Linked DNA regions of Homo sapiens. The protein of the gene in region 1 interacts with the protein of each later gene in a biochemical or structural test. Each region holds a gene or a part of one and is shown in the gene's direction. Other genes may lie near its edges.

Region 1 (7,098 bases):
AAATTTATCCCAGCGTGGTGGTGGGCACCTATAATCCCAGCTACTGGGGAGGCTGACGCAGGAGTATCGCTTGAACCTGGGAGGTGGAGGTTGCTGTGAGCCGAGATTGTGCCATTGCACCCCAGCCTAGGTGACAGGAGTGAGACTCCATCTCAAAAAAAAAAAAAAAAATGGGGCTGTAAGGTCTGCTGGGTGGCCTGAGCTGAGCCTGTTTCCCTGCCTGGCCCTTGCAGAGAAGGCCAGCTGGTTGGGGGAACAGCCCCAGTTCTGGTCGAAGACGCAGGTTCTGGACTGGATCAGCTACCAAGTGGAGAAGAACAAGTACGACGCAAGCGCCATTGACTTCTCACGATGTGACATGGATGGCGCCACCCTCTGCAATTGTGCCCTTGAGGAGCTGCGTCTGGTCTTTGGGCCTCTGGGGGACCAACTCCATGCCCAGCTGCGAGACCTCAGTGAGTCCAGGCCCCTGGAGGCTGGGGAGCAGCTCCACATGTTGAGCTGAGTCGAGTTCAGTGTGGCCGTAGGCAGGCCCTGGAGCTCTGGGCCAGCTGCACAGCCAGAGAGAGCCCTTGAGGGAGGGATTAGGGGAGTGTGACCCTTCCTTCCTTCCTTGTCAGCTTCCAGCTCTTCTGATGAGCTCAGTTGGATCATTGAGCTGCTGGAGAAGGATGGCATGGCCTTCCAGGAGGCCCTAGACCCAGGGCCCTTTGGTGAGAACCCGTTTTCTCCTTCCTTCCCCAGCCTGTCTTGTCCCATCCCTGCCCCTCCACAGAGTGCTAGAGATGACCCCCTCCCCAGACTTCTTCCTCCCTCAATTAGAAAAATTGCAGCAGGTCATCAGACCCATGGGCAGCATCACCTGTCCTGGTCTGGTCCCCTGAGCCCTCTCTGAGTTCTCACCTCCTCTTCCCAGACCAGGGCAGCCCCTTTGCCCAGGAGCTGCTGGACGACGGTCAGCAAGCCAGCCCCTACCACCCCGGCAGCTGTGGCGCAGGAGCCCCCTCCCCTGGCAGCTCTGACGTCTCCACCGCAGGTGAGAGCTCTCTCTGGGCCACAACCTCCCTTCCCCGAAGTGTCCCTTGTTCCCTCTGGCTCCCAGCACCATAACTCAGGCCTTCTGGCAGGAACAGGAACAGGCTGGGAAGTGTGTCCTGAGAGCCAGCAGCGTGGTTGAGCAGAGGGTGGGCCGGCAGGGGACTTACTCTGACCCCGCCCCCCAGGGACTGGTGCTTCTCGGAGCTCCCACTCCTCAGACTCCGGTGGAAGTGACGTGGACCTGGATCCCACTGATGGCAAGCTCTTCCCCAGCGGTGAGTCGAGGGAGGTCCCCAAGAGGGCGTCCCATTTAGCAATGCACAGGGGGCCCGGCTCTTCCTGCAGCCTTTTCCTGTAGAGGGGCTACTCTCCCTAACTCCCCTCTTGCCCCTCCTTGACCTTCCACCACCGTCCCCACAGATGGTTTTCGTGACTGCAAGAAGGGGGATCCCAAGCACGGGAAGCGGAAACGAGGCCGGCCCCGAAAGCTGAGCAAAGAGTACTGGGACTGTCTCGAGGGCAAGAAGAGCAAGCACGGTGAGCTCCGGGGGCACGTGGGTCCTCCCTGCGCCGGGCTGAGCGGCTTCCTGGGGCACTGCGGGTTGTTGCAGGTATCCCTTCTCCCGTTTTCTCTGGCCTCCGCATGGCCTTTGGTAAGGCTGTGCACAAGCTGGGGGCTCTATGGTATCGGTCACCACCTAATTGCAGAGCCTGGCTTGGTGGTCCTGGAGAGGAGGAGGAAATAAGGCTCCCAGTGGGAGGCTCATGGTACCAGAGTCCTGTCCACTGACTCCAGTGTCCTGTCCACTGACTCCAGTTCTCTCTGCACTTGGCCACTGTCCTGCCCTCTGGGACACCCTCAATGTGAGGAGGCAGCTGGTGGGTCTTAGGTGGGCTGAGGAGAAAAGCAGTCACTGCAGTACCCGCACAGAGGGCACTGCGGGGTCTCTGGAGAGGCTTGCTGCATGCTGTGGCCAAGTCAGCAGTGCACTGGGGCGGGCAGGGCTGGCTGGCCTTGGGTGAGAGGGGACACCTGGATGGCAAACTGATGGAGGCTGGCCTTGCAGCGCCCAGAGGCACCCACCTGTGGGAGTTCATCCGGGACATCCTCATCCACCCGGAGCTCAACGAGGGCCTCATGAAGTGGGAGAATCGGCATGAAGGCGTCTTCAAGTTCCTGCGCTCCGAGGCTGTGGCCCAACTATGGGGCCAAAAGAAAAAGAACAGCAACATGACCTACGAGAAGCTGAGCCGGGCCATGAGGTGAGCTGGCGGCCAGGACCCTCACGATACAGCCGGACATGGGGACAGGCGCTCACACTCCCACCGCCCTCTTTCTGGCTGCCACTTGGCTTCTTGCAACAGGGCTGAGTCCTTAGAGTGAGGACAACATCTGGGTTGGTCTACTTCATGGATTAAATGACAACATGGAGAAAGTATTAGCCTGGCAGACAGCAGACACAGTGCACTTGAGCTAGCAGCAACATTTCTTGTATCGCCTGTGAGGCTTGTCCTCAGGAAGGCACCTGGAGAGTGGGAAAGGGGGCAGGAGCCGTGCCCACCCAGGGCCTGGCTTTCTCCTCGTTGAAGCACTTAGGTTGTTTTTCTCTGGGCCTCAGTTTCCTCCTGTGTCCAGGAGTACACTAGATCATCTTAAGATCCCGTCCAGCCCTAAAATCATGTACTTACTTTTTTTTTCTTTTTCTTTTTTAAATAGAGGCAAGGGTCTCTACGTTGGCCAGGCCGGTCTCAAACTCCTGGCCTCAAATGACTCTCCTGCCTCGGCCTCTCAAAGTGCTGGGATTACAGGTGTGAGCCAGTATGCTTGGCCTTTTCTTTTTTCTTCTTCTTCTTTTTATTTTTCGAGACAGGGTCTCGCTCTGTCACCCAGGCTAGAGTGCAGTGGCACAATCTTGGCTCGCTACAACCTCTGCCTGCCGGGTTCAAGTGATTCTTGTGCCTCAGCCTCCAAGTAGCTGGGATTACAGGCACCTGCCACCATGCCCAGCTAATTTTTGTATTTTTAGTAGAGACGGGGGTTTCACCATGTTGGCTAGGCTGGTCTCGAACTCCTGACCTCAAGTGATCCGCCCGCCTCAGCCTCCCAAAGTGCTGGAATTACAGGTGTGAGCCACCGTGCCCAGCTCCCTGGCCTTAAAAGTCATGTAATTTAATGATCAGACCCCAGTCACAGCCATAGGATACAAAGAAGCAAAGGCAAAGAGCCCTGTGTCCTGGGCACGGTTACAGGCCAGTGTAGGGAAAGAGCTTCTGCTTGCCAGTGTGAAGAACAGAGGAGTTTAGGAAGTGTGAGTCAGGCTCAGCTTAGTCAGGCAGAGACCAGTGGGCATGGGTTACCTGGGGGTAACGCGGGCCAGGTGGGCGGGCTGGCAGCCTGGGGCCCATTTCCTGCCAAAGCACCTCTGACCATCCTTCTCTTCACCCAGGTACTACTACAAACGGGAGATCCTGGAACGGGTGGATGGCCGGCGACTCGTCTACAAGTTTGGCAAAAACTCAAGCGGCTGGAAGGAGGAAGAGGTTCTCCAGAGTCGGAACTGAGGGTTGGAACTATACCCGGGACCAAACTCACGGACCACTCGAGGCCTGCAAACCTTCCTGGGAGGACAGGCAGGCCAGATGGCCCCTCCACTGGGGAATGCTCCCAGCTGTGCTGTGGAGAGAAGCTGATGTTTTGGTGTATTGTCAGCCATCGTCCTGGGACTCGGAGACTATGGCCTCGCCTCCCCACCCTCCTCTTGGAATTACAAGCCCTGGGGTTTGAAGCTGACTTTATAGCTGCAAGTGTATCTCCTTTTATCTGGTGCCTCCTCAAACCCAGTCTCAGACACTAAATGCAGACAACACCTTCCTCCTGCAGACACCTGGACTGAGCCAAGGAGGCCTGGGGAGGCCCTAGGGGAGCACCGTGATGGAGAGGACAGAGCAGGGGCTCCAGCACCTTCTTTCTGGACTGGCGTTCACCTCCCTGCTCAGTGCTTGGGCTCCACGGGCAGGGGTCAGAGCACTCCCTAATTTATGTGCTATATAAATATGTCAGATGTACATAGAGATCTATTTTTTCTAAAACATTCCCCTCCCCACTCCTCTCCCACAGAGTGCTGGACTGTTCCAGGCCCTCCAGTGGGCTGATGCTGGGACCCTTAGGATGGGGCTCCCAGCTCCTTTCTCCTGTGAATGGAGGCAGAGACCTCCAATAAAGTGCCTTCTGGGCTTTTTCTAACCTTTGTCTTAGCTACCTGTGTACTGAAATTTGGGCCTTTGGATCGAATATGGTCAAGAGGTTGGAGGGGAGGAAAATGAAGGTCTACCAGGCTGAGGGTGAGGGCAAAGGCTGACGAAGAGGGGAGTTACAGATTTCCTGTAGCAGGTGTGGGCTTACAGACACATGGACTGGGCTGGGAGGCGAGCAAAGGAAGCAGCTGAGACTGTTGGAGAACGCTTACAAGACTTCATGCAAGCAAGGACATGAACTCAGAACACTGAGGTCAGAAGCATCCTGCTGTCATGACACCGCTCGAGTGACCTTGACCTTGACCAAGTCTGTCCTGTTTAGGACTGATTTTTCCTATTAGGCTAGGGTTTGGACCTGATGTTCTCAAGATGTCTAGAATTGCATGGCTGGCCTTGTGGAATAGATGGTTTTGCATTCCAGCCAAGTGTGCTGTAAACTGTATATCTGTAATATGAATCCCAGCTTTTGAGTCTGACAAAATCAGAGTTAGGATCTTGTAAAGGAAAAAAAAAAAAAAACAAAACAAAATGGAGATGAGTACTTGCTGAGAAAGAATGAGGGAAGGAGTTGGCATTTGTTGAAAGTGTAGTCTTTTTCTCTTTTTTTTTTAATTGCAACTTTTACTTTAGATTTAGGAGGTCGTGCGCAGGTTTGTTACATGGGTATATTGTGTGATGCTGAGCTTGGGATGCGAATGATCCTGTCACCCAGGTAGTGAGTATAGCACCCAGTGAAACTGTAGTCTCATGCCAGGCACTGTGCTAGCCCACTCTGGCTCATTTAATCCTCTCCTAAGAAGAGAGGAGACACAGCGTCCCCATTTGACAGATGCAGAAAGAGGTTCCACAGGTGTGCCTTGATTCTGTCCTAAAACCGTTTCCCGGAAGCTTTTCCTGGTGTGGGCGCTTCTAACCTAATCCTCAATCGATTCCAGAACTATTACTCTGTTTCCACAGTGATACTGTGTCTAGGTTTTAGGGAGGACAGTTCATTGATGTTACTTAAGAATGCTTTCCAGGTGGAAAGTTCCTTAAGTTTGAGGCTTCAAATTCCATACAGCACATTAAAATCCCATTCATGAGTTTGAAATACTGCTCTGTTGTCTTGGAAATACCAATCAGATTGTTGGCTGAAGTGATGTGGATAAAGAAGGGATCTTAGAAAAACTAAAGCTTGTGTGTGGATTTCTGGAAATGCAGCTTGCTCTGGAGAAGCAAGGAATGGTGGAAAAGGAGAGTGGGGAAGTTGATTGGAGAGGAAAGTGAGGTCATGAGAGAAACCAGAATCCTGGAGCCATTTGGAAAAAGGCTTTTACTTACATTTCCCTTCTGAAGTGTGAGCCAGTTAGACAAAGGGGATGCGGGCCAGGGCGTAGGTCTAGCCTCAGAAGCTGGGGAAGCTTTCACAGCTACTTAGTCTAAAAATGACCCCATTTCTTGGAAATTATGCATTAGACTCTGGTCTAGTTTCCCTAGCCACAATATCTCGGGGTCCTTGCACCCTTAAAAGAGGTGACCCAGCTGGGCGCGGTAGTTCACGCCTGTAATCCTCGTACTTTGGGAAGCCAAGGCGGGAGGATCACGAGGTCAGAAGATCGAGGCCATCATGGCCAACACGGTGAAACCCCGTCTCTACTAAACATACAAAAATTAGCTGGGCATGCTGGCACGCGCCTGTAGTCCGAGCTACTCAGGAGGCTGAGGCAGGAGAATCACTTGAACCCAGGAGGCGGAGGTTGCAGTGAGCTAAGATCATGCCACTGCACTCCAGCCTGGTGACACAGGGAGACTCTGTCTCAAAAAAAAGAAGAGAGGTGACCCAGTGTGGCCTGAAGTCACCTAGCCAAGAAGTGGGGGAGGGGCCTCTAGAGCCCGGGACATGCTTGTTCAGCCTCCCTTGACTCCCAGCCTCTTCAGCTTCTAAAGGAGATCCTAGCAGGGAGGAGGGCTGGGAATATGGCGCTCAGCCCCTTCACCCTCTTCTGGAGGGCTGGGGGCAGGTGCTGCCCGCTGCGTGCTGACCTTTGCCCTGCCATTTGCAGTTTATGAGGCGCTTTCCTCATCCCATTATCTCATTTGATCCGCCCCACAGCTCGCTGAGGAGACCAGGTGTCCCCATTTTACTGACAAGGCTAGTGGTGGGCTGAAGTCACTGACTGGGTGAGAGCGGGGCCAGCTCACAGCATGCCTGCCTCCACGCTGCAGCTCAGTGAGACCACCTGGGCAGGTGGCCTCTGCAGGGCAGCGCCTGGGACAGCCTGGAAGACGGCAGCTCTGGGAGGGACGCCTTTCTCCCCAACAGTTCTCTGCCCTCTCACCCCTCAGGATGCTGCAGAGTCCTGGCACGGGCCCCTGGGCTGGCCTCCGTGCTGCCCTCTCTGTCGGGCACCAGTCACCCTTACCCCGACTCTCACCAGCCCAGGGGCCTCCTAGCAGGAGACGGCCCGGTCTCTCGCCCACCAGAGTCTGCATCCCCTCAGGTGTGTCCTGGGCTGGGGAGTGGGGGTGGGGAGGAAGCCACAGGGCCGGGCTGTTTATATCCCGCCCTGCCGGAGCTGCTGGTCACCTCTTATCTGCTTCTGTGGGATTGGGTGTGTCGCTGAGCAGGTCAGAGGGAGGTCACCCCTCCCGTCGTGTTTGGGTGTGCCTGAGGAGGGGCTGGGGTTGGCCCCCTGGGACAGTTCCTGGCTTATCCCACAGCCCCACCTGTCCCACCAATTCTGGGGAAGTCTGGCTTCTCCTGGGGGAAGTGGGTGAAGGGGTTGCATTTCTGAGGAGTCTGGTTTCAATCTGCTCTCTCTCTCT
Region 2 (8,500 bases), on another chromosome or scaffold:
TACAGTATACATCAGGGGAGCTCCAGGGCTACCTGATGATGAAGAGCCTTGCTGAGTCAACTGTATTCCCACATTAGGTTTTTAGTTAAATTTTGTTGAGTGGAATAGTGGGGAGAAAATAAATTAGAGCAGAAAAATATCGAAATACATATTTTGACAGGGAAAGGACCTCTATTGAGTTTTGGAACTTAAAGCGATTTAAGGTCATCTTTCAAATTATAACACTCCTCTTCCTTCACATTCCTCAGGTGATTAAACTTCAAACCAAGAGGACAGATTTATTGCCTATGGTCACCACAACTGCTTATATATGCCCGGCACTGTCAGTTTTTAACTTATGCTTTGTGCTGGAGGCCCTGTTAAAATCTATGCCAGTTTTTCTTACTTTAGTATGTCAAATGTGGTAAAAGACAGTCTCCCACAGTCAGTACCTCTAGTATATTATTCCTTAGTTCTTCCATTTATCCCGTTATTCTGACTCTGGACCTTCCTCTTAGGAGGCTCCAGGTGTCAGGCAGGAGGGGCTCTCATCCTGTCTATCTCCTATACCAGATGGTCACTACTTTAGGACATGGACCATCTTTTTCATCTTTGTACATTTATGTCAACAGTACCTATCACAGTCTTACTGAGCACAAAGTAGGTGCTCTGAAAATACCTGAAACTGTTGAATTATATCAGTATATATTAAAAGATCCCCATTGCCTCTCCAGTTCTTTGCTGATCAAATGATAGAATCATTTGGTATCTATCAAAAATCTCATATTTTGGAGGCATTTTGTCTCTTAATTCTGTGTAATAAACAGTAATGGTATGCTATTTTTGCCTGGACCTGCCCTAAAACCTGCCACTCTTGGCCCAGCTCTCTTATAGTTTGCATGGGGAAATCAGGTTGTCACAGATTGTAAGCAGATCTAATTAGTGGTAAGTTCCATTCCAGGGTAGGGCAGAAACTTAGGGAAATAGTATCCAGTCTGGGGAGAAATTCATTGTTCTCTTTAGATAACATGATCCTGATGCTGATGTTCTTTATCTTCAGGTTGAGGTGAGGACCCCTGGTAATGTAATGGGTTCAGGAGATTTTTGCAAAGAGAGGAAAAGGGCAGGGCAAAAGCCTGTTTAGACTGCCATTTACCATATCAGGAGAGAGTAAGAAATTATAGTGATGAATTTTGAAAAATTAGAAACTTTTGATCTCTTCCCTACATTTCATACTTTATTTCCTGTTCAGTGTGGAGAGAAAAATTCATAGAATAAGAAGGTACTGTGAGCTTGTCTTCAGGGGTTGGGTTGGGGGAGAGGCAGGTAGAAAAGCTGTAAGCTAGCTTCCCATTCACAGCTAGGCTTTGAGTGGGAGAAGGAAGCCCCAAGGGACTGAGTGGATAGTGATGGCTAAAAGAAGAGGGAGAAACAGATTGAGCTTCTGAGACTAGCTACACAAAGGTGAGAGCTTGGAGGCTAATGTGTATTTCAGAAGGGATATCAGGATGGGGTTTCTCGTGGGAGGTTTGGTGATCCTGATAGTTAAGTTCCATGGCAGCTGGACCAGATGCATCTTGCTTTTCTTCTTTGCACAGAATGTGAAGGCTGTGTCTGAGACTCCTGCAGTGCCACCAGTTTCAGAAGATGAGGATGATGATGATGATGATGCTACCCCACCACCAGTGATTGCTCCACGCCCAGAGCACACAAAATCTGTGAGTCTTTGGGGACCTGGCCAGTTTTGTGATTTATTAGAGTAAGTGGGGAGAGGGAGGAGTTGGTGCTGATACCTAGAAGTTTAATATTCTGGTAGGCGTCCTTAGATTTTGGAGCTGGTGAAATCACTGAACTACCTTGACTAAAGGTACTTTCTGTATGATTAAAGACAAAAAATCATGTGTTTATTTATCATTGGTTTGCAGATAGTCCCAAAGTGTCCTAGGTAATTGATGTTTATACCAGTCCAGTCTCGGTTCTCCACAGATAGGACAGGAAGATATATAGGATTGATGCTACTTAGTGCAGGACTAACATAAATTATTCCAGTCTCCAGGGAAGCAACAAATTGTCTTGCTACAGATCTTTTCTTCTCTGTTAAATGTGCAGTGTTCAGCCTCTTAGAGCATTATTGATAATATTGAAAGACCCAAGAGAATATATAAATACATTAGTGCTATTAATATGCTGGGCATCAGGAGTGCATTTTGATGCCGGATGTTGGCAGTGATTTCTATTTAACTTCCTTTGAGGTTCCTGCATCTCTGAGAATAGCCATGGTCCCTCTAACCTTGCTTTGAAACATCTAGTCCCTGTGCCTTTTACTTAATTTGGCATCACTGAGCACTGACCTACCATCAGATGATACTCTACTAGTGTTTCTTTGTTTAGGTCTTTTACTAAGATGAGAGCTCCATAATGAAGGAACCATCTAGCACTTCTGTGATCATGAAAGAAAAAAAAAAGGGCTACCTCTGGAATACAGCATTCAGGGAGGTGTTCAAACAGAAATTGGTTGAATGACTATTGGAGATGCTGTGGAGGAAATTCAAAGGAATTATATGACCTATTAGGATGAGAACTTACAAACAGAATCTGTGGAATCATCTCTGTAGGTCACAAAGTTACCTCAAGGGAAAATGCGCTTCAAAATTGGAGAGTCGTTAACACTGATATGGTTTTTTTTGGTTTGTAGACATGTTCATTTAAAACATTTTTTTCCCCACTAAACCATGAACACCTCAAAAAGTAGAGGAAATCCATATGTATGTATTTCTAGTGCTTAACATAGTTCTTGGCACCTGCAGAGGTGGGTAAATATCAGAGGACAGTAAATATTGAATTAATTAATTAATTGATCTTCATAGCATTTCTTTCTAAAAAGGTATTGGTAATTCCTAATTTATAGAAGAAGCAGCTGAGATTTGGAGAGGTGAATTGATCTGCCCAGTCTCTTAGTAAACAAAAGAGCCAGGATTTGAAAGCAGGTAATTAACCCCAACTCCAGGTTGTTTTCCACCATAGCACAGTGGTATTTTTGTGTGTACAAACCTGTGCTAGGAGCCAGAGAAGGAGACTATTAAAGAAGGAAAAGGCAAGGTTTCTGTCTTCAAAGAGATATATCAGGACAGGCAAAAGAGGACAAGGCATGGAAGTACAGGTTTAGGTGCCTGGGATATAGTTTGTCTACAGGTACAAGAATAGAAAATTGAGAAATCATTATGCTAGAGTAGTAATCAGGAAGGAAGCCATTGCCTCTGATCTCAGCGTCTTGGCTTATTGCTGTTCCCACTACTGGAATGTTCTCTCCCATTTCCACCTATTAAAAGCCTGTCCAGTCAAAAGGTAGCATGGTCAAGCAGTCCAAGGTGCAGGATGTAGTTGGCTTTAGTCTCTGTGGAGCCATGGGTTTGAGTCCCACTGTTGCCAATGGCTTTGCATCATCGCAGATAAATGATCATCATAGATAAATGATCCTCTATCTTTGTAGAAACCTATCCGTCCTTCAGGATCCAGTTGCAGGATCCTGTTTGTTTATTTATTCCATCAAATATTTACCTGAATGCTTGCTTTCTTTTAGTAAGTGGTTAGATGGAGGAACTCACGGATGAATGACCCACATTCCCTGTCCTTATACTGTTTATGGACTATGCAAAAGATAATTGTGATATTTTTATGATAAAATCTGTTAAATACCTTGAAGCATCTCCTGGGGAAAGGAAGTATAATTTATGATCACTTCTGAACCTCAGTAGTATATAGCTTGCTTATTTCTTTATAACATGTATCACTTTCTGCCTTGTAGTTATGATTTTCTCACCTCCTTTATAAGAATGAGAGGTTGGGGCAGCATTTTGTACAGGGTGAGGCAACAAATAGATTCTCAGTAAATGTTTGTTATGTAAATGAATGAATAGGACATTTAATATTTTTAAAAGGTAAAATTTGAGTGCTTAATGTCTGCTGGGGATGAGTCTGATTACCTCACATATTAATCAGTTTACTCCTACAGCAACCCCAAAAGATAGTTATCATTATTATCACCATTTTATAGATGAGGAAACTGAAACACAGAGAAGTTAAGTAACCTGCCCAAAGTCATGCAGAAGGTAAGAATAATAAGAGTTGGGATTTAAGTTCAGGCAGTCAGGTTCCAGAGTCCATGTTCTAAATCATCACACTCTACTACCTCTTGATGAAGAACAAAAGTAGTTCCTTCCCTGCAAGGGTTCAGGATGTAAGGAGGGAGTAACTCAATAGAAGTTGGTGTTGTACTAGTAATGCAAAGTGCTATTTGCATTACTACAGGATATGTCTTTTAACTTGGGGAAGCATAAAATATTACAAATGAAGGGGATTCTTACCTAATAGAATTGTCTTCAACTAATTTCTTTTGTTACAGAATATTTCTTTTAGCTTGGGGAATACAGGATATTTCTTTTAGCTTGGGGAAGCATAAAATATTACAGATGAAGGGGATTCTTATCTAATAGAATTGTCTTTAACTAATTTCTTTTGATAGTTGTCTAGCCTCTATTGAATATCTTTAGTGCTGAGACTCTCACTTCTTTTGTTTACAGTGAGAGTAAGGAAGGCCATTTTACCCAGAATGGGTGGGCCTGGGCACAGAGGAGGAGTAATATAGATTTTGACATAAGAGAAAGGATGAGTTTATTGGGGTTTGCTCTGTGGATGTTCTAACCTCACATCTAGGAGAGGTTCCCCTATGCTAACAAAGGCTGGTCTTGCCAAAATTTTGCACTAATAATGCAGGTATACACACGGTCTGTGATTGAACCACTTCCTGTCACTCCAACTCGGGACGTGGCTACATCTCCCATTTCACCTACTGAAAATAACACCACTCCACCAGATGCTTTGACCCGGAATACTGAGAAGCAGAAGAAGAAGCCTAAAATGTCTGATGAGGAGATCTTGGAGAAATTACGTAAGGAATTTGTAGCTTTCTGAACCTTTCTTCGTTTTATGACTGGTCAAGCACAGAGATTTGCTGGTCGTAGGCTTGGTCCATGCAGCTGGCTGGCCATGCTTGGTACCTTAGGCACAGACTGCTTCTCCTCACCCTGCCCCTGAACCTCCCTTCCCTGTCTCACAGCCCTGGTTGGATACTATGTTAGGATGGAGATGTGGTGAGAGTGTGGATAGCTTACTTTGAGGGCAGGGCATCCCTCACCCCTAGGCATGTATTATAGCGAAGACAAATAGTTTTTCTCTAATGAATAGCCTAGAATGCCATGTTGAGAAAGACTGAGGACCTAGTGGAAAAGGGCACTGTGATCAATTATTGATGTTTTGCCATTGACCTAGGAGAAGACGCATCTGCCATCTTGGTTGTAGGAAAAGAGGGAAGGGAAGTTAACATTTTATGAACCTATAGTATGTATCAAATGACAAGCAAAATATTTTCTTGATTTTTTTTAAATTTAATTCTCTTATTAACCCTGTGAAGAAAAGCATTATGATCCTAATTTTTGCAATGAAGATATCTGAGGCTCAGGGAGGCTAAATATCCTGCCCAAAATCACGCAGCTAAAAAGTGACATGGCTGAGGTTAGAACACAGTTTTTGTTCCTGTAAGTAGAGCATACTGCCTCTTGCTGTCAAGTGGAAACTTCCATTTTACTTTCTTTAGCTGCCAGAAATGGGGGTATGTTAGGGTAGCTTATTTCTGTGTTTCAGTAAACTGCAGAAGAATTCATGTTAGAAGGAAGAACTAGGTTGATCTGTGGGCTTGGAAGAATCATTTGACAAGGGCTTTAATTTATTCACTGTATCTACTTACTTCCAAAAAGGATTTGATGTGACCGATTTGGCGACGTCTGCAAACTGGCATTGCTTTGTGGTTCTCTAGTTCTTCCTGATTAATTCCTATATGACTTTAAAACAAATTTTCACTGTTTTAAAAATTGCCCTTTTCTGGATCCCTCATAAAATGACAAAGTAAGAAAAGCCACTTACCTAGTCATCTGTTTACTCCTGTATGTAGTCTTGTTCTCTAAACCAGAGTTTTTTGTTTTGTTTTGTTTTAACAATAACACTTAGAATTATGACTTAGAATTAAGACTTGGCCTGGGAGTTAGGACACTTGAGTTGAAGCTTCTGCTCAGCCACTGACTTGTGTCTTAGGCAATTTTCTACTGTTCTCTAAACCTCATTTTTCTCATTTTTAAAATAGGGATGTTAATACTTGTCTCATTTGCAAATCAAATGAGGTAATATATGTGAAAAGTACCAATTCCTAGTAATTGGGTATTAATGGAGAGCACATTGGACCGGGAGACTAAAAATGAAACTCCTAATCTTAGCTCTGACACCAATTTGCTGTGTGACCTTGGGGGGGAAGTATCTTCTTCCCTTCTGTGGGCCTCAATTTCTCCATCTCTAAAATACAAGTTATAAAACCCAGTGGAAAACCTCTATGTCGTTGCACTTGAAATATTCTTTGTTGTAAACCTCTTCTCTACTTTATCTCTCTGGCTTTTACTTAAAGTGGAAATCAGTCCATATATCACCTTTCTGAAGTTTTTCCAGTCTTTTTTTTGTGTGTGTGTGCCTCTTTCTGTACCCCTTTGGCTTTTATCACAGCAATTATTATATTTTCATGGAACTTTATGCTTACTTATCTGTCTCCTCCATGAAATTGACCTTCTTGAGAGCAGGGACTGCCTTGACTGTGTCATATCTCTTCATTCCTAACACAACATATGGCTTGGTGCGTATTAAATGAGTAAATATTTACTGAATGGATTAATTAAAAAATGAATGACTTTTAGGAGTTTAGAAATGGAATAGCTTACTATGAATCAAAGCAGTCAAGGTGATGAAACTTTTGGTTGAGACTTATGGGGGAAAAGCTGAGGGCCTGTTTAGCATGCTTTTTGGCTATTGGAGGTAGTTCTTTAACCCTTGCCAGCTACAGGGGTTGGGGAAATGTGGAACCTTTTTTGTATCTTGATTTGGGAAAAAATGATTCATGGTCTCTGTTTCTTTCAAAGGAAGCATAGTGAGTGTGGGCGATCCTAAGAAGAAATATACACGGTTTGAGAAGATTGGACAAGGGTTAGTAGGGGCATTTTCTTTCCCTGGAGAAATGACTTTAAAGTGTGTGTGCCGGCATATATGATTTTGCTTTTTTTTTGCCTCTCATAAACCTTGTTCTTCTTTCTCCACTTTACCCCTCACCCATCTGGAGTTGTTATGTGAGACTGACTTGAGATTTGGCAGAATTATGCTTAATATGAGAGAGATGCCATTAGCTGACCATGTTGCTAAAAATACCCCTGCAGTGACAGTGAGAGAACGGTTTTTTTTCTTAGCACAAAACCAACTTCCCAAATTACAACTCTGCTTTTCCGGATGAACCCTGTTTGTCCTAGTGCTGAGATCCACCAGCACTAATATAAAATGGAAGACCCAAAACTATAAATCCTTCTACTACTGTGATAGGACCTGTTTTTCTAGGTAGATGCCAGAATTTATCCTTCTTGCATTCATCCTTCTCTGTATCTTATATGCTGCCCTCAGTGTAATGAATTCAGCAAGTCTTAACTGAGTTCCTATTGTGTGCAAGGCACTATGAATTCAGAGACAATCTCTGCTTCCAAGGACCTCAAGTCAACAGAAAAAGATAGGCAAACAATTGTATAGTCATATGTTGCCTAACAAAGGGGATATGTTCTGAGAAGTGCATCCTTAGGCAGTTTTGTCATGTGAGCGTCATAGAGTGAACACAAAACTAAATAGTATAGCCTACTACACACCTAGGCTATATGGTATAGCCTCTTGCTCCTAGGCTACAAGCCTGTACAGCATGTTACTGTACTGAATACTGTAGGCAATTATAACACAATGGTGGTTGTATATCTAAACATAGAAAAGATACGGTAAAAATACAGCATAAAAGATAAAAAAAAGGTATATTTATGTAGGGCACTTAACATGGATGGAGCTTGTAGGACTGGAAGTTGCTCTAGGTGAGTCAGTGAGTGGTGAGTGAATGTCGAGGCCTAGGACATTACTGTGTACGCTACTGTAGACTTTATAAACCCTGTACACTTAGACTGTACATTTATTAAAAAACAAAGTAATTGTGCTATGACGTTACAACTGCTACAGTGTTACTGGGTGATAGGAATTTTTCAGCTCCATCATAATCTTATGGGACCACCATCATATGCGGTCCATCGTTGACTGAAACGTCGTTATGTGACACATGACTGTCTTGTGTTTTTAAAGTGTTTGGCTGTTATTTTGAGTGAAAGAAGCTAGATATGAAAAAGCAGATACTGTCTCATTTGATTTATATGAAATTCAAGAACAGGCAAAAGTAATATATGATAATAGAAGTCAGAATAGTGGTTATTTCTGGGAGGAGGATGTAGAGTGGGAATAGGCATGAAGGAATCTTCGGGGGTAATGACTGTAGTGTCTTTTGAAAGTGGCCATTATTTTGAGTGAAAAAAGCCAGATATAAAAGAGCAGATACTATGTCATTCTATTT
Region 3 (5,554 bases), on another chromosome or scaffold:
CCCCTTGAGACCAGGATGCTCCATGGTTCTGTTCATGACAGCCTTCTTTTTGCTATATGCAGTTTGTACCTTGGAGATTTCAGCCAGCCCTGTAGCATAGATACCAGCTAATTAAATGGCTCTCAGTTAAATGGCAAATGGTTATTGAGCAAAAGGTGTTATGGTAAATACTAGACATTCAAAGACAATCAAGACAGTCTGATCTCCCCAAAAGCGTGCTGTCTACTAGAGGAGAAAGATGTGTACCAAGTCATTATTTCTGACAGCATTGTGTATTAGAAGGAACACTGGATTTAATCAAAAGATAGGAGTTTGAATCCCGATGCCACCTCTTACCAACTGGGTAACCTTGGATAGGAATTGCATAACTTCTCTGAGCCTGTTCTCAAATTGCCTACCTCATAAGGTTGCTGTGAAGAATAAATGCATGATGGTTTCTGAAGCACTTATCCCCTGCCGTTAGATCTCCTGAGCTGCATTTCTGTTTAACACGGCCCCCAGTTTGTCAGCCAAGCAGCTCAAATATATGAAGTCTAAAATGAAAGTAATGACCCTTTATGATCTCTTTCTATTGTTCTCAATCAGTTCCTTTTTTTTTAGTTACCTAATTCTGCTCACGGTGTGTCCCTGTTGTTCAGATTCCAGATGTCAGTGATTGTGGACTCCTCCTTTTTCTTAACAGATTACATAATACCTGCAGCTGCCAAGTCTTTGTCTGTGTTTTCATTATTTCATCATTTACATCAGATCTTTCTTTTCTCTTCCCGTTGACACACCCTAGTTCAGGCCTCATTCAAGTCATACCCAGAGTATTGTATCAGCCTCCTAATTGATCTTTACTCCTTCACTTTGCAACCTATTCTGTATGCCTTGTGAAGTACCACTCCAATTCTTGAACCCCTTTAATTAGAAACCTTCAGTAACTCCTTCATTGCCTATCAGGTAACATCTATCCTCTTGGCTAGCATTTAAGGCCTCCCCACATCTGCTCCAGCCTGACTTTCTAGCGATACCTCTCACCATAATACAAACAGTGTTCTGATCAGTCTTAGCTACTCACCATTCCCTAGTAGTATTATTGTCTCTGCTTCTGCCTGTTCATTCCTGTGTATCCCGCCTTCATTTTTACCTATTGAAATTTTCCCATCTTTCAGAGCCACCTCAGATGCAACCAGATCTTTGATGGATCAAGGTGAAACTCCTTAGTGTAAACATCACTGGCCTCTTTGATTTAGCCATTATTTTTCTTCAGCATCATCTAACACACTTCTATTCCTGTGCTCCACCCTAATTACTTGCATTTCCCAAGACCTACCACAGTCTTTCATCATTCCATTCATTAAGTGTTTGCAGAATGAATACTGCCTTCCTTGATTTCTCCAACTAGAAGTCACACCTTTCTTTAGAACCATGGTTAGAACAGGACTTAGCTTATTGTGTATAAAATTTAACAAGTACTGCTTTCTCTTCCAGTAGGAATTACCTCCCTTCCTTGAAGGAAGGGACTGTATCCTCTGTAACTTTGTGCTTCTTAGTATGGCATAATACATTTATGTATTAAATATTTGATAGCACTACTCACTGTATATTAAAGTAGAAGCCCAGTGTAACAAAATGCCAACCTCTCCCCTCTCTGTGACCCATGATCTCCCTGCGGTGTTCTCTCCTCATTCCAGGTCTCTCAGTGTACTTGTTCCTATTGCCTTTTCCTTTTGGCTAACTTCTTCTGGGCTACACTATCTAACATCTGGCTGTTGAGGTGACTACTAAATTGAATGCTAATTCAAACCTGGATGTTCACCTGTAACTAGGAATGTTGTTCTGGTCAAAAGTTAAGATTAACTGGAATGGTGACAACTGGTGTCTTTTTTATTCGCAGTCCTCAGTTTTGAACTCCTTTTTGGCTCTAAACTTGCTTGTGGGATTATCGGGGTTTTTTAAATTTTCAGTACTCCATTCTTGATTCGTCTAGAAAATCTGGGGGATTAATCTAAAAATTTATAGATTTCCTTTCAGTACAATTAGCCTAATTACTTGATTTTTAATCTTATTTTACCATTTAAAGGTTGAAGAAATCTTGATTATGATGAAAATAAATTTATTTTTCTTTCAACAGTGACATTGTGAGGAAGATTGATCAGTCTGAATTTGAAGGTTTTGAGTATATCAATCCTCTTTTGATGTCTGCAGAAGAATGTGTCTGATCCTCATTTTTCAACCATGTATTCTACTCATGTTGCCATTTAATGCATGGATAAACTTGCTGCAAGCCTGGATACAATTAACCATTTTATATTTGCCACCTACAAAAAAACACCCAATATCTTCTCTTGTAGACTATATGAATCAATTATTACATCTGTTTTACTATGAAAAAAAAATTAATACTACTAGCTTCCAGACAATCATGTCAAAATTTAGTTGAACTGGTTTTTCAGTTTTTAAAAGGCCTACAGATGAGTAATGAAGTTATCTTTTTTGTTTAAAAAAAAAAAAAACACTGCATTAAAAAAGTATCTGTTGCATTAAGGCACATAGTGGGATTACATCATAAACCTCCCATAATTTTTGTCATTCTGTGTTAAATCATTTCAGGGTTTAATTTTGAAATAAAAGATTAATATAAAATGCAACAACTTTTTATATTACCTATTAGTTTTGGAGTTCTTTATGTTTAAAAATTCAGGTGTAAATTTTATTGCCTTGGATAAATAAATTATTGATCTTTTTTAAGGCAGCAGTTATTAAATTGGTAATAGAAGATGCTGCTTGCTTAGAATTGGGAAATTCGGCTGGGTGCAGTGACTCAATGCCTGTGATCCCAGTACTTTGGGAGGTTGAGGCGGGCAGATCACTTGAGGTCAGGAGTTTGAGATTGGCCTGGTCAACATGGTGAAATCCTGTCTCTACTAAAAATACAAAAATTAGCTGGGCATGGTGGCACATACCTGTAATCCCAGCTACTCGGGAGGCTGAAACAGGAGAATCGCTTGAACCCAGGAGATGGAGTTGGCAGTGAGCCAAGATTAGCCTGGGCAACAGTGAGTGAGACTCGGTCTCAAACAAAAACCAAATTGGGAAATTCTTCTTGAGTTAAAAAAGACACTTTTTATTATGAATCAGATTCCAAATCATTAACTATTTTTGCAAAACTGGCACAAGTGGTTTTTCTTTTTAAGTATATTAACAGGGTAGCTCCTGAGCCTTTCCCTTTATTGGAAACTTTAACTGCAGTGTTAATATATACACTGCAAAAGACCAAGGATGCAGTTGAATGGAAAATTACTCAGTGTATAGAAAGGAAAAAAACCAGAAATTTAAAATAGATACAGAAAAGTACACTGGTAATATTTTTATTTCCTATTGGAGAGTGAATCCCCACAGTTGCTTTTTGTGACTTGATTCAAATGAGGCACTCATTATTGTTACCAAACTTGTAAAAGCATTCCATGTATTCAGTGGAGGCAGAATGTATAATATTTTTTCCTTATAATTTAGCATACAGGAAAAGTATTTATTTTTTAAGTAGGGTATCTTAATTATGCTCATTTCTTCCCCTAAACCACATTATCTATATGATTGGACCCTTTAGTGAAATCAGAAAAATAAAGTAGGCATGAATAAATGTTCAGGACACACACATACACTCACACACATCACAGTATCAGCTCTTTCAGTGAGTTTTTATTAACTAGATAACACATGTAATACATAGTAGAATACATTTCAGAGGCAGAGTTCCTCGGATTATTTTTTATGGATATTAGTGTTCAGCAGCTTATTATTTAAAGGGGTGCCAAATATAGCATCCTTCTGTTGTTTATTTTAAATATATTTTTAATGAAAAGGGACTTAAAAAGTAAACATGATTATCTAAATTACTTAAAATTTTTTAATCTTAGTAAAAATTTTAGGAAAGTTATCTAGTTTAAATTTCAAATGTTTTAAAATTTGTAGGCATTTAATAAATTATCTTTTTTTGGAGGGGTGGATGCTGCATTTCATTGGAAATGTCATTTTTCCAAAGTTTCTAGCTATATACTCTCTTTCCTTCAAATAACATAAGTCTGAAAGCAATGAAAACGTCAAAGGAAAATGTTTATATACATCCACATGTTTATTTAATATGTTTCTCTTAACACCTGAAACTTGTTTTAAAACAAAAAGCAGTATTCACTTCAAATCATAAACTTAGAATTCTGTATCTCATGTCAGAAATATGTTTATGGCCTTGCTTTTAAGTGGTGCTGTTTCCCATAGGGCATTAGTTCTCAGATTTTGGAATGTGAAATAATCACCTAGGAAGTTGGTTTAAAATGCACACTAGTGAGCCCACCTTAGACTTCTTTTGGGGCCTTCGACCTCACTTTGAGAAATACCTTCTTCAGGTTATTCTTTATGTTTGTCCTGTGGTTAAATATTAGAGTATTCATGATAAAACATTTTGAGAAGGGGTAAGCAGTGAGTTATTACCCACAATTTAAAGCAAATTTTGAATGAATCTTTAAGTTAGGTATCTACCTTCCCACCAGCCCCCCAAAAAACCTCTCAGTAGTTTCTTTCAGTGTACAAAATGATGAGCATTTTTCTATGATGAGGTTTTAACCATTATTCAGGGTGGTCTTTTGTTTTTAAATCTTTTTTTAACTAATAAGATTTACGGTGTGTATTTTATACAGAAATGCATTATAAATGTTTTTAATTGTGTTCTGTTTTTTGCAGTCTTTAAGTGCCATGCCAATTGTTCTTATATTCTATAGAAGTTCGCTCAAAATACTCAACAGGGGAATAGGCAGCGGACAGTCAGAATGGTTGGAATTTTGGCTTTCTAAGAAAAACTTTATTTTGCATAAGCATGTGGTCAGATCATTTTGTGCATATGCAGCCTGGATTGGATGTTAAGTAAATGCTTGTTCAGTGCCGGTACATTTACTTAAATCTGTTTTTATTTTTGTCATGTAGAATACTACTGTGGTCATCATAATGTAATCTATTTCTGTACCTTTTTTTTTTTTTTTTACTTTGAAGTCTTTAAATAAAATGTATAATACCCATTGAGAGTGGATCATTTTTCATATGTAGTATGTCAGAAATTTGTATAAGAACAAAGATGCATCAAAATTTGTTCAAGAAAAAGTGAAAATTTCAGAGTTTGGAATTTTGCTGTACTTAAAGCACCATTCTGGTAGAACTGATGCTGTCGTATTTACATTTAATAATGTTACATTTAGCTGGACATAGTGGCTCACACAGCACTTTGGGAGACTGAGGTGGGAGGATCACTTGACCCTAGGAGTTTGAGTTCAGCCTGGGCAATATAGTGAGACCCCATCTCTACATACAGAAAAATAAGAAATTAGCCAGGCATGCCGGCAAAGTGCCTATAGTCCCAGGAGGCTGAGGTGGGAAGACTGCTTGAGCCCAGGAGGTTGTGGCTGCAGTGAACTATGATCATGCCACTGCACTCCAGCTTGGGCAACAAAGTGAGACCCTGTCTCTCAAAAAATATTTAATGTTATATTTATTAATGTAGATATTATTAAAAATTAGGAAT

Evidence for each region. Proteins that work in one complex are often made in the same cells at the same time.
Region 2: the proteins of ELF3 (region 1) and PAK1 form a complex in vitro, tested with the Homo sapiens proteins (one study listed by BioGRID).
Region 3: of the proteins of ELF3 (region 1) and PRKCI, one has a biochemical effect on the other in vitro, tested with the Homo sapiens proteins (one study listed by IntAct).

Annotation. Positions count from the first base shown.
Region 1 is NC_000001.11:202,011,724-202,018,821, forward strand, and holds the end of ELF3 (ETS-related transcription factor Elf-3), read left to right. Parts: intron 1-233; coding exon 234-455; intron 456-620; coding exon 621-713; intron 714-916; coding exon 917-1,036; intron 1,037-1,127; coding exon of another isoform or gene 1,128-1,177; exon of another isoform or gene 1,178-1,223; coding exon 1,224-1,313; intron 1,314-1,458; coding exon 1,459-1,575; intron 1,576-2,105; coding exon 2,106-2,301; intron 2,302-3,485; coding exon 3,486-3,600; 3' UTR 3,601-5,460; downstream 5,461-7,098. UniProt on the Homo sapiens protein: Transcriptional activator that binds and transactivates ETS sequences containing the consensus nucleotide core sequence GGA[AT]. Acts synergistically with POU2F3 to transactivate the SPRR2A promoter and with RUNX1 to transactivate the ANGPT1 promoter.
Region 2 is NC_000011.10:77,352,095-77,360,594, reverse strand, and holds part of PAK1 (serine/threonine-protein kinase PAK 1), read left to right. Parts: intron 1-1,577; coding exon 1,578-1,697; intron 1,698-4,752; coding exon 4,753-4,927; intron 4,928-6,995; coding exon 6,996-7,059; intron 7,060-8,500. UniProt on the Homo sapiens protein: Protein kinase involved in intracellular signaling pathways downstream of integrins and receptor-type kinases that plays an important role in cytoskeleton dynamics, in cell adhesion, migration, proliferation, apoptosis, mitosis, and in vesicle-mediated transport processes.
Region 3 is NC_000003.12:170,300,924-170,306,477, forward strand, and holds the end of PRKCI (protein kinase C iota type), read left to right. Parts: intron 1-2,116; coding exon 2,117-2,204; 3' UTR 2,205-5,054; downstream 5,055-5,554.